Regions from separate parts of the Homo sapiens genome. Here region 2 is linked to region 1. The links come from fine-mapping of genetic effects on gene expression. A gene starts in region 1. The other region holds a variant in brackets. All regions are shown on one strand. Distances are from middle to middle. Region 1 holds the start of TFEB (transcription factor EB). Region 2 overlaps TFEB (transcription factor EB).

Region 1 (5,361 bases):
ACCCACATTCCTAGACACTTTAACCACACACACAAACTCACAACCATTACATAAACCCCACACCAACCCAGAAAGCAACATCATGTACTCACCATGTACCAGGCACTGCCGCACCCTTAGTCCTCACAACAGCCTGTGAGGTGGGTGTGTTTTCATCTCCCTCCTCTCAGATGAGGATCCACACTGTACATGCATATATGTTCACTGCGTCCTGGGACGTGAACATTTCTGGCAGCTCTGGGAACCCTGAACTCCCACCCTCCGATCAGAGGAGGCCAACCCAATTTCCATGGTCATCTCCAGGGCAGCCCCAAGCCAGGCCCCAAGTGCTGACTGCCCTCCATCCCCAGGACAAAGGCCCAACCTGGTTTTCATGACAGCTGTGGTTGGGGAAACCCCTGTTGCCTGCAGAAACCGAGTTGACTTTGAAAAGGAAGAGACAGAACCCAGGGGGTGGCTGGGCTACTCCCTGTGGGGGCAGGTGCTAAGTAACTCTATTAACTCTGGCTAATGATGCAATTACAGTCATAAACAGAGCCCCAGGAGGGCTCAGGGCCAAGAGCTAGACCCTCAAAGGGCAGCCAGACTTGAGGGGTGGGAGTCCCCTTCCACCTACTTCTCAGCTTTCCAGAAACAGGCTGAGGAGGCCTGTGACAGCGCACGTGGGACCCTGGAAGGGCTCCTGCCTGCCCTGGCCCACTCCCTGCCCACCTCTGACTGTGAGTCACCAGGCCATTAGCCCGTAAAAGCCCAGTTGGCTCTCCCTAGATTCAGTGCCCACCTAGGGTGTCCCCTGCCCTATCCCCTGAACTCCTTCCAGGGCACCCGGAACCAAGATACCTGGGTCCCCATTTGGCTCCGTCTCCCAGAGCTGAGTTGAGGACAAAATAACCCTGCAGCTGTAACAAGCCTTGTAAATGGTAAGCACCATTGGCTTCCCTCGGGGAGAAGCAGAGCATGGAGTCACCCAAACAGCTCTGCCCTTCATTTACACCCTCTGGCTCCCAGCTCTCCGGGCCCCGCGGCCAGGAGGCAGACGGAGAGAAGGGAGCCAGGCGAGTTGCTCGTGGTCCTGGGGCTGGGGTCACCGGCATGGTGAAAGCATACCGTCAGGTTAGCAGGCAGGGACCTCAAGGCAGCTGACCCTTCCCTTCCTCTGCCTCTGCCTCTCCTGGCCGGCCAGGAACTATTGCTGGCTGTCCCTCCCCGGACAGTGAGCTCCCTGAGGGGAGGGCCTGAGGACTGTCTCCCAGTCGTGGCACCAAGAACTGCGTTCTAACCGAGCGCATCCGCATCTGTCCACCCAGAAGGAAACCAGAGACCAGCCTCCAACCTCATCCCCAGCTGCCCAACAGTGCCAGGTCTGGGCCAATGGAATCTCGGCCAGGGCGGGTGCAGGGGCCTGAGGCCACACCCCAGAGGTGTCACTGGGGGCCTGCATCCGTCTTGTCCCTTTCCCTGAGGGATGAAGCAGCCCCTCACTCGGGATGGGGGGAGGGCAGAGGATGGGAGCTGGGCAGTAATTAACCTGCACTTCCCCAGCGAGCTCTAAGCCAAAAACTGCGCTCAAGTTGAGTGCAGAAGCTCCGCGCTGAACCGTCCCCAGAACAGACAGGCGAGAGAACGACGGCTGGAGCTGAGGGGGGTTCGGGGGAAGGCGCAGCGGCCAGGGGCTGGCGGAGAGCGGAGGGCGGGGGCCTGGGCCCAGCGGGGTTCGCGCAGACAAGCCCCGCCCCGGGCTCCCTCCCTTCCTCACCCGGGGCGCGGGGCTGGGGCGCGCCAGGCGGCTGCGGCGCGAACCTGCTCGCGCAGCCCGGAGCAGCTCGGGGCAGCCGTGCGTGAAGCCGGAACCCCGCGCGGGGAGGGGGCCGAGCTGGCATCTGCCCGCTCCCTTCCAGGAGGCGAGCGGACGCGCTGGGCCAGAGCTGGTCGGGACAGCCCAGGGGTGGGCGGCACGGACTCGGGGGATCGGGGGGAAGGGGGCGTGTTTTCCGGGATTCGGGACCGAGACGGGGGGAGGGGGAAACTCGGGGGGCGGGCAGGCAGCTGGGAACCCGGGGGGAGGCAGACAACGGGGCGCACGGAGGGAGCGCTCCGGGGTTGGTGTTCCCCAGGGTCATAGAATAACCCACGGGGAGAAAGAGACTGCCCAGGGACTCGAGGGGACGGGGCCAGGGGCGGCTTCTTCAAGAGACCGAGCTGGAGGAAGGGACGGGAAGGGAGGGAGAGATGGTACTTCCACCCGCCCCCCCATCAGCCCAGCCCCCGGGGCGTGGCGCCGCTCTGGCCCTCCCACTCCCCCCGCTGGCCTGGCCAGACTCAGCCCCCGCACACCTCCCCTACCTCCGACCCCCTCTCAGGCATCGCCGGCCCCAGCCGTGTCCGGTGGAGGGGGAGTGGGCGCGGGGCCCGCGCGTCCCTCAAACTTCTTGCGAGTTCACCATCACGCCTCCCGCCCCTTCGACTCCCAGCTCCGGGCCGGGAAGGCCCATGCCCGCCCGGCCCCTCCCGCCCGGTTACATAAGGTCGCGGAGAAGCCGCCCCCGGCCCGCGCCTGAAGGGAGGGGCCGAGGGGGCTCCCGGCTCGGCGGGCAGCGCCGCTCGGGCCACGCGCTGGGCGCCCGGGGGCGGACGGACTGCGGGTGGGTGGCGGCGCGCACGGTCCTGCTTCCCTCTCCTGCCGGCATCCCCCACCCTCCCACCTGTCTCCGGGACCCACGGGATAGGGGCCAGGGAGCCTGGGTCGGGGGTCCCGGGCCCTCCTCGTGCCTCTCGCTCCCCGGTCCCGCTCACCTCGCTCTGAAGGTCAATCTGTCCGCCGCCCGCGCCCCGCGGCTCCGGCAACTTGTCGCAAGTTCGGGTGCCTGGCCCGCAAGCTGTGCCCGCCACCTGCTCCCGGCCTGCTCCGGCCCCGTGCCACCAGGGAGGCCCGCCCCGTCCGCCCTTCCCGCCGCCGTCGGCGCCGCGGCCGCTCCCTGCGTCCCGCCCGGGCCGCCGCCTCCGCTGTCACCGAGCCCCGCGCCCGGCGCCCGGGCTCCGGCTGTCACTCCACGCACACTTCCCTCCGCGCCCGGCAGAGGGCAGCACCCGCCCCGCCTCCCAGCCGCTCTGCCTCGGCGCCCACTGGGAAGCGTAGTTCTCGCTGCAGTCCCGCTAGGCACGCCGGGATTTGTAGTCCCGCTCAGCGGACTAAGGCTTACAGGGAAAGAGGCTCTTGACTTGGAACCTCTGATCCACTTCTACCTCTTTGCAAGTTTTCTTTCTCCTCTCAGTAAAGTCCCAAACCAGGGCTCACTAAGATACATTCTGTAGCCTGTCCGACCCCCTAAAAGGAACCTGCAGCCTGCTGTCCTTCGGCAGTCTAAGAAAGAGAGGGTCCCAGATGGTGTGCTGTTGCCATAGAAACTCCACCTGTGGCAAATTCCAGCTTCTCTTCAGGAGTAGGGTGCAGGACCTGGATCTTGCACTTTTATCCCTGCCCCGATCATAAGGGGCAAGGCCAGGGTGAGCCTGGCGAAGTACAGGGTAAAATATGACAGTAGAAGGCAGCCTGCCCCCATTATGGGTTCTACATTCACGCCCCACTCACCAGCCTGAGCTTGCTGTCATGTTGCTGGACAGAAATTGTCTGAGCTCCTTTCATGTCACCTTCCCTTGTTGGAAGTTCACAGGGTGCGGAGGCATCATTCTCTACTTTCTCCTCTTCCCCGCCCCTTTTTCCCTGTCTCCTCCCCCAGCCCCTCCCCTGCTTTTCTTCTCCTTCCCCTCCTCCTTTTCTTCCTCTCTCTCCTCCTTCCCCACATACAATGTTGCTCCTGGTTTCTGGATCTTTTGCTAAGAGGCTCCTGAGGAGGACAGGGATGAAGTCCAAAGGGACAAGATCCCTTGCTGAGTTGGTTCCAGCAAATAGGCTCGATTTCTCTGTGACTCAAGTAGGAACACTCTCCCCCGGCCCGCCACCCACCCACCCATGATGGCGCTACCACTGTCTTCCCTTTCCAGGGGAAAAGTATGAACTTTAAGCTCTGAGGGTTACAGAGCCCATCCCAAGCCATGCCTTAGGTCCCATTTCTCTTAGAATCACAGTGACCCACCAGGAAACCTTGTAGCCACTCAGGGAAAACTCCCTTCCAAAAACAACAGGATGACCAACATAAAGAAGAACTATTTATTATTAGAGAAAGTCCAGAGTCCAGAAAAAGAAGGCTGAATCCAGAGTGGAAAGACAGATACAATGCCCTAGGAGGGTGCAGGGTCAAGAGGAAGAGGGGAGCCCACGTGTCGAGGCAGCAAGTCTAGGCGGCAGTGGCAAAGCCTACTCTGTTGTTGCCCAAGTCGTAGACGGAATAGTAGGACCTGAGGAAGACATCCCCGAGGATCCACAGGGGCTGGCCGTTCTGGGAGGACAGGTAGGTGGGCTCGACTCCCACGGTGCAGTAGCCGTTGTTCTGCTCAACAAAGAAAGGCAGCACTCATTCATTTGTCCACACATGAGCTGGGCCCTGCTCAGCTCTGAGCCCTGGGCTGGGAGCACAAGTGCAGAGCTGAGGGAGCCAGGGTCTCTGCCTTGAGGGCTCATAGGCCAACTGAGCCACCAGAGCAGAGCGGGTGGGAGGATTTCTGGAACAGGTACATTCAGGCTGCCGTGGTCCTCAGCAGGGTCTCCTCTCCCCATGATGGGAAACTTCTCTTCCCACAGACCTCCCTCCTGCTCCCAATTTGGAGCAGATCAGCCTGGTGGTTAAACCTTGGAGCCAAACCAACTTGAATTCAAACCTTAGCTGTGTCGCCTTGAGTCAGTTACTCAACCTCTCTGAACCTCCAAGTTTTCATTTGTAAAACAGAAATGAGTATCTCCCTCATTAAATACTGTGACAATTAAATGGGATCATGAAGCAAAGTGCTTTGCACAGTGGTCTGCCCTAGTAAGTGCTCAACAAAGAGCCCAGTGCCTCTCCCCACTAATTAATAATAATTGATCATAGATGACAATCTTCTATTTCATAGCCTTGTTCCAGAGAAGGGGGTTTAGAATCAATGAGTGGGGAAGATAAATGAGTACAAGCGTGGAGTCGGAAAATGGCACAAGGCAGGAGACCCAGCATTTCTGGCTCCCCAGCCCTTCCTCCCAACCCCAATCATGGTGGCTCAGCCTGCAGGGACCAGGACTTACACTGAGGATATAGGAGGAAGGTGGCAGAGGGAACTCCACACCATTGATGATGAAGGTCAAGCTGGGCAGATTCTGAATGCTGTTACAGTTCACGAGAAACTGCAAGAGGAATAGGTCCCTGGTTAACTCATCCTCCCCCTGATAGCACCCACCAGCCCCATCATCTCAGCCCCTGGATCCCAGGCCTG
Region 2 (5,361 bases), 23 kb before region 1:
AAGTGTGTGCCACTATGCCCCCACTAATTTGTTTATTTTTTGTAGAGATGGGGGTCTCATTATGTTGCCCAGGCTAGTCTTGAACTCCTGGCCTCAAGCGATTCTCCTGCCTCAGCCTCCCAAAGTGCTGATCTTTCCACTAAATTTATAAACGAGAAAATAAGATTCCATCACTCCCTAATTTATCTATTTTGGAAATCTACATTTTCATTAAACAGGTTGACAAATATAAAGTAAGATCCTTCTAATGGGCCTTAGCCACATAACTGGGGCAGAGTCATTCCCTGAAGGATGTATAGAGTTACATCAGAATAGAGGATATCCTCCTGGCTCAGTTGCCTTCATACCAGCTCCCACCATGTGGTCATGCCATGCCAGTACCCATCTCTCAGCAAGTCCAACTCCACCCAACTCCTATTCCAGAGAAGGTGGGTCAGGGACCAGATAAAGGAAGGGGAAGCCAGGTAAAAGCACAGCAGGGACAACAGGCCAGGATGGCCAAGGAGAAGAAGCCAAGAACAGAATGCAGGGATTTGGGACAGGGGTAACTACGGATCAGAAAGAAGAGGCTGAAGAGCAGAGAGGATTTATTGTCTTTGGAGAAATGAAGAAAGAAAATATTCCTCAGAGAACAAGGGAGCAAAAACAAAATGAAACAGATGGAGCAACATAGAAAGACCATTTTTTTCCTGCTCCATCACCCCCAATTGCTCTCCACTACCTACCAGATAAAGTCCAAGCGCTCTAGTTGGGCCTCCAAAGCATGCAGGATCCCTCTCCCTAAACAAACACTGGGTGCAGCCAAGGGGACCTCCTTGCTCTCTCACGCCAACCCAATCTGGGCCCCCAGACCCTCCCCCAGTTCCTCTCCCACAGATTATCCAACTTCTCCTCCTCTCTGGAAGCCCTGCTCCAGGGTCTCCTCCTCCTCCCGACAGCACACCCTGACTTCACCCACCTCTAATCACCATTTGGGCACAATTACTTACTCTGTTCCAAGCCTGGTTCTGTGTCTGAAACAGGAATACAAGGATGAATAAGACAGCCCTTGCCCTATGGTTTTTACAATCCAGCTTGGAAAAAACATCATCACCTGATAGCATATATTGTATTTCTTCTACCACTATGGATAATACTAAAACTTGTATTGAGTTGTAAAACCATCTATCAAGGATGGCTTCTAAAGCCGTGATAGAGCCAGTGCCAGGCCCTTGGCTTTATCATGTATTAATTCATTTGGCCTTCCCAATAACACTAGGAAGTAGGAAATACTACTGTACTCATTTTACAAATGAGAAACAGGTACAAAGAAGTCACCTCTCTGGTTTTCTCAGCTGCAGTGTGAACTCCTTGAGGGCTGTCCCTTGGTTTCCTCCTCTCCCACACAGGCTCCAGGTAGAGGACACTCGGACATGGCCCTCTGGGCTCAACGTCCCCACCGCTGTGGCCTTAGGTGAAGGTGTGCTGACTGGTGGGTGGGAATGGTATACATGCAGGAAAATGAGCGCCAGCAGAATGGAGGAGACTGGCCTCCCAGGTGGGGTATGAAAGGACACAGTCTCGGTGTCCCCTTCCAGCATCTCTCTTCCCTGCCTGTCCCCAAGGTCCAGCCCTGGCATTTCACAATCCTGCAGTCACTGCAGAATTCCCTGTCCCTTTGCTAAGAGCGCTGAGGTGGTGTAGAAGGAGGGAGCCAGGCTTCATGCCCAAGACAGACAGGGGAACAAAAGGGTGGGCTGTTGGAGAAGGGAGGAGCCCTTCAGCTCCCCCAAGCCCCAGGGGGTCAAGCCTCTCTGAGTGAATAAGCCTAGCCTGGAAAGTAAAACACAGGGCAGGCCCCAAAAGGGTCATGTCTGGGCACCCTCACCTTGGCAGGGGGGTGGGGGAACATGGGCCTGCGGCAGAGGCAGGGCCCTCATGGCACCGAGCTGGGCTGCCCCCTTGGCAGGCTCACCCAGCTCAGAGGCCTCTTCAGGCTGGGAAAGCTGAGGAGGTGGATGGCTCAGACCCAACTTAGAATAGAACCATCATGAGGCATTGAGTGGGGTTCTGGGTTGGTGAAGGGGGCTTCGCACAGCCTATAGAGCTCAGCAGTGGGGGTCCAGTCCCCAGCCCCGGCCATACCTCACCTCAATATTTCTATCCCCTCCTAGAAGGCACAGTGGATGTACAGTGCAGGTAGAGCAGGGAAACTGAGGCACAGAGCCTGTCCTCCAGCTCTGGAAACCTGCTCTGCCTGTCTGGCCACCAGCACCATCCTTGAAAATGAACCCCCATGTTTCTCACAAGCACACAGGACTCCAAATCCTACCATTCCAGGGTCCTACAGGACTCCAGATCCTACCGTCTCAGGGTCCTCTTCTACCCTGGGGACATATATTTTCGAGAAAGAGGCTCCCCAAAGTGGGGCTGTGGAAAGAGGGCACCGTGCCTTTTCCTGAGTCCTGGTCTGGGATTGGGTGACGAGACCAGTAAGGGGCTCAGCCACAGCTCTGGGCTCCAACCCCGGCTCTGCTTCTCACTAGCCATGAGGCCTTGGGCAAGTTACTGAAGCCTCTCAGGGCCTCAGTTTCCTCCTCGGAGAACAGGACTAAGTCTCCCTGCTCTTGTCTCTCATAGTTGATAGTATCCAAAAGGTCCTGGTACCCCACCCAGGACTCATACCCTTAATCACTAGTCCTCCCTCTTCCTCCTCACCAGGGGCCCAAGGGCTCAAGCACTGGCAGGGGCTGCTGAGGAGCTGACGGAGCCACTGCTGTTGATAGAGCCGGTGCCAGGCCCTGGGCAGGCACGGGGCCCAGGCACACAATGGGGCTGTGTGTGCACCCAGCGTTACTCTGGAGTGGAGCTGGGCAGGCAGGCTGGCATCTGGGGTCAGGCCAAGAATTCATGTCTCTGGAGAAAGCCTCCCCACCCCCTCCCAGGCAGCACAGCTCTTTCCAGGGGTGAGCAAGCACCACCCACTCCCCCACCCGGCCTAGGAAGGGAATGGGAACTTGC[T/C]CTGGTGGCAGGTACTGGGAAATGGGGACTCCTGAGTCTAGCCACTGGCTGGGCTGCTCGCTTGCGAGGCATTTTGGACCTATTACGTAATCTGGGGTTGCAGCCTCCTCTTTGGCCAGAGGGAGGGTGAAGTCTGCGGGGGCCAGGAGAAGGAGCAAGAGAAGTCTGGCTGCGACCCCCACCCCATACAGAGGGCCTCAGTCCTCCCTCCCCAGCTTACCAGGGCCCTGGGCTCAGCACAGGTTTTCTGAGGCACCCAGGACTCCTGGCCACCCAGCCTGCACCAGGGTGCTGGGGTACCCCAGGAGAGGAGCTGGCTCACTCCCCAGGAGAATGAGTCACCAGCTGGCTGCAGCCAGGATGGCGAGGCGGGTGGTGGGCAGGTGGAGCTTGTCCTCTCCTGTCCCTGGCAGGTCTTCTCAAGCTGGAAAGCCACTCAGCTGGTATCAGTGCTGACCACAGCATCCCAGCCCAGGCCTCACTGGGCCACTTCTTCTGGTGCAGGGACCGTCTGGCCGCAGGATTCAGAGAGACTTGATCCCCTCCGGTCCCTACGCTGACTCACTCTTATAGCTGTAGGCATGGGCAGCCTACTCCTCTAATTGTCTCTGAGAGGGTGTCAGGCTGCAGGGAAGGGCAGCCACCTACCCCCAGGGAGAAACGCGGTCTGAGGCGAGGAAGGAGGGGAGAACTCAGGCACCTGGTGGGCAGCAGGGAAAGGCAGACAGCCAGGCCACCTTACTCCTCAGGCTGTGGCCAAAACAGGGAGGGCCCCTTTGCATGAATCATTTTCTATTCTCCCCAGAGCCAGGAGGCACCCAGGAACAGGAGCTAACTGGCCCTGCTCCCTGGCTGGCTAGACATGTGGCACCCTCCCTCACGCCCAGTCATAACGACACAGATAGGCGTCCTGATGCATGCCACCCACACTCCCTGAAGGTCATACACAAAGTCACTGTGGCAGCCCAGCCCAGTGGACACAGTTGGATGGCCACCCATCCCCTGACACCCACAGGAACCCCCCAGCCTGAGCTAGAGTGGGCCACACCACATCCTGTAGGCCCCAAACAGTGCTGAGTCTGGGAGCACCTCAGCTCCGAGGGCTCCTTCCTGGTCAGAGGGCAAGGACCTTTCCCAGCCAAGACCACTGCACTGAGTCCTGTGTGTGCGTGTGTGTGTGCACGTGTGTGTGTGTGTGCGTGTGCATGTGTGCGTGTGTGTGCATGTGCATGCGTGTGCATGTGTGCGTGTGTGTGCATGTGCATGCATGTGCGTGCATGTGCGTGCGTGTCTGTGTGTGTGCGTGTGTGTATGCATGTGCTTCTACCACCCCTACTCTGAGAAATCACTCCCATGCCCTGAGAAAAGAGACGGTGAGAACCAAAGGGCCTTCGGAACCTGAGCCCATCGTGTTTGTTTTCCAGATGAACAAACTGTAACTCACATTGGGGAAGTGTCTTTGTTCTAGATTATGAATAAGGCTGAATCTGGAACCCAGGCTGGGGTAGCTTATGGCTAGTCAGACAAAGCAGAGGATGGGGAAGAGGGAGCAGGGGCGAGAAGGAAGAAAAGGGAGGCGAGGGAAAATTCATCACCAGATCAGAGGTGCGGCCTTGATGGTATCATTCCATTCATTCATTTCAAATATTTCTTGAGCACTTACTACATGCCAGCACTCTGGCAGGGCCTTTCTGCCCATATCACCCCTCCCTCCTGTGAGACACTGCTTCTGAGACGGACTATTGTCTTCAGGGGACCCCCATCCCGAGGGTGCGGGGAGACTGGGGCAGCGCTGGAAGCTCTACCCTTGAGTGGCGGCCCGGCCCCAGAGAGGCCCTGGAGGCAGCCTCCTCTGCCCTCCACACCCCAAGGGACTCCAGCCCTCAGGGAATCCAGTGACCACAGCACTCCAGACCCTGATATACAGGTTGGCACTCCTCCGGGAGTCCATGCCAAGTCAGAGGGCACAAAATGTCAGACGACAAGGAGCCTGGGAGTCACCTACCAGAAAGTCCCAGGTTGATGTTAGCAGCAGCACTCCCATTTTCAGACAAAGTCGGCCTGGACCCTTGATATGTAAAACATGAGGATGAAGCCGCTCCATGGAGCACCAGGAGTCAGTGTGAGGAGCAGGAGAGCAGCATGGGGAGTGGGAGGACCACCCCACCTGGCCTCCAACCAGGGCCTCCCCCACGCTCCCAGATAGTACCCAAGGCACCTTCTGGGACTGTGACGAAGAATCTGAAAACCACAGTTTTCTCTGGCCTCTCCATGTTGCGGAAGTCTGGAGGAAGCAGGGAGTATGTGCGGACCACACAGCTTAGGGAGAGCTAGGACCACAGCCCTGGCCCTCCCAACTTC

The links. PIP is the estimated chance that this variant, and not a neighbour inherited with it, causes the effect.
Region 2: its variant is the best candidate, but not a certain one, in a credible set for the expression of TFEB in whole blood (INTERVAL, PIP 0.51).

Annotation. Positions count from the first base shown.
Region 1 is chr6:41,732,557-41,737,917 of GRCh38, forward strand. TFEB (transcription factor EB) reads right to left here and starts at 3,052. Exons shown (of 9, transcript NM_001271944.2): 1 at 2,794-3,052. PGC (progastricsin) reads right to left here. Exons shown (of 9, transcript NM_002630.4): 8 at 5,174-5,272; 9 at 4,155-4,448. The coding sequence ends at 4,296. It overlaps MIR10398 (microRNA 10398), which reads right to left and starts at 1,054; the gene lies at 998-1,054. RefSeq lists enhancers at 151-230, 248-944, 301-350, 841-950 and silencers at 1,601-2,040, 2,171-2,700, 2,741-3,210.
Region 2 is chr6:41,709,928-41,715,288 of GRCh38, forward strand. All of the region lies in intron 1 of TFEB (transcription factor EB), which reads right to left. Among named protein-coding and RNA genes, the nearest start is that of MIR10398, 21 kb to the right of the region's middle. RefSeq lists enhancers at 2,876-3,601, 3,602-4,325. The variant T/C (reference allele first, on the strand shown) is at 3,001.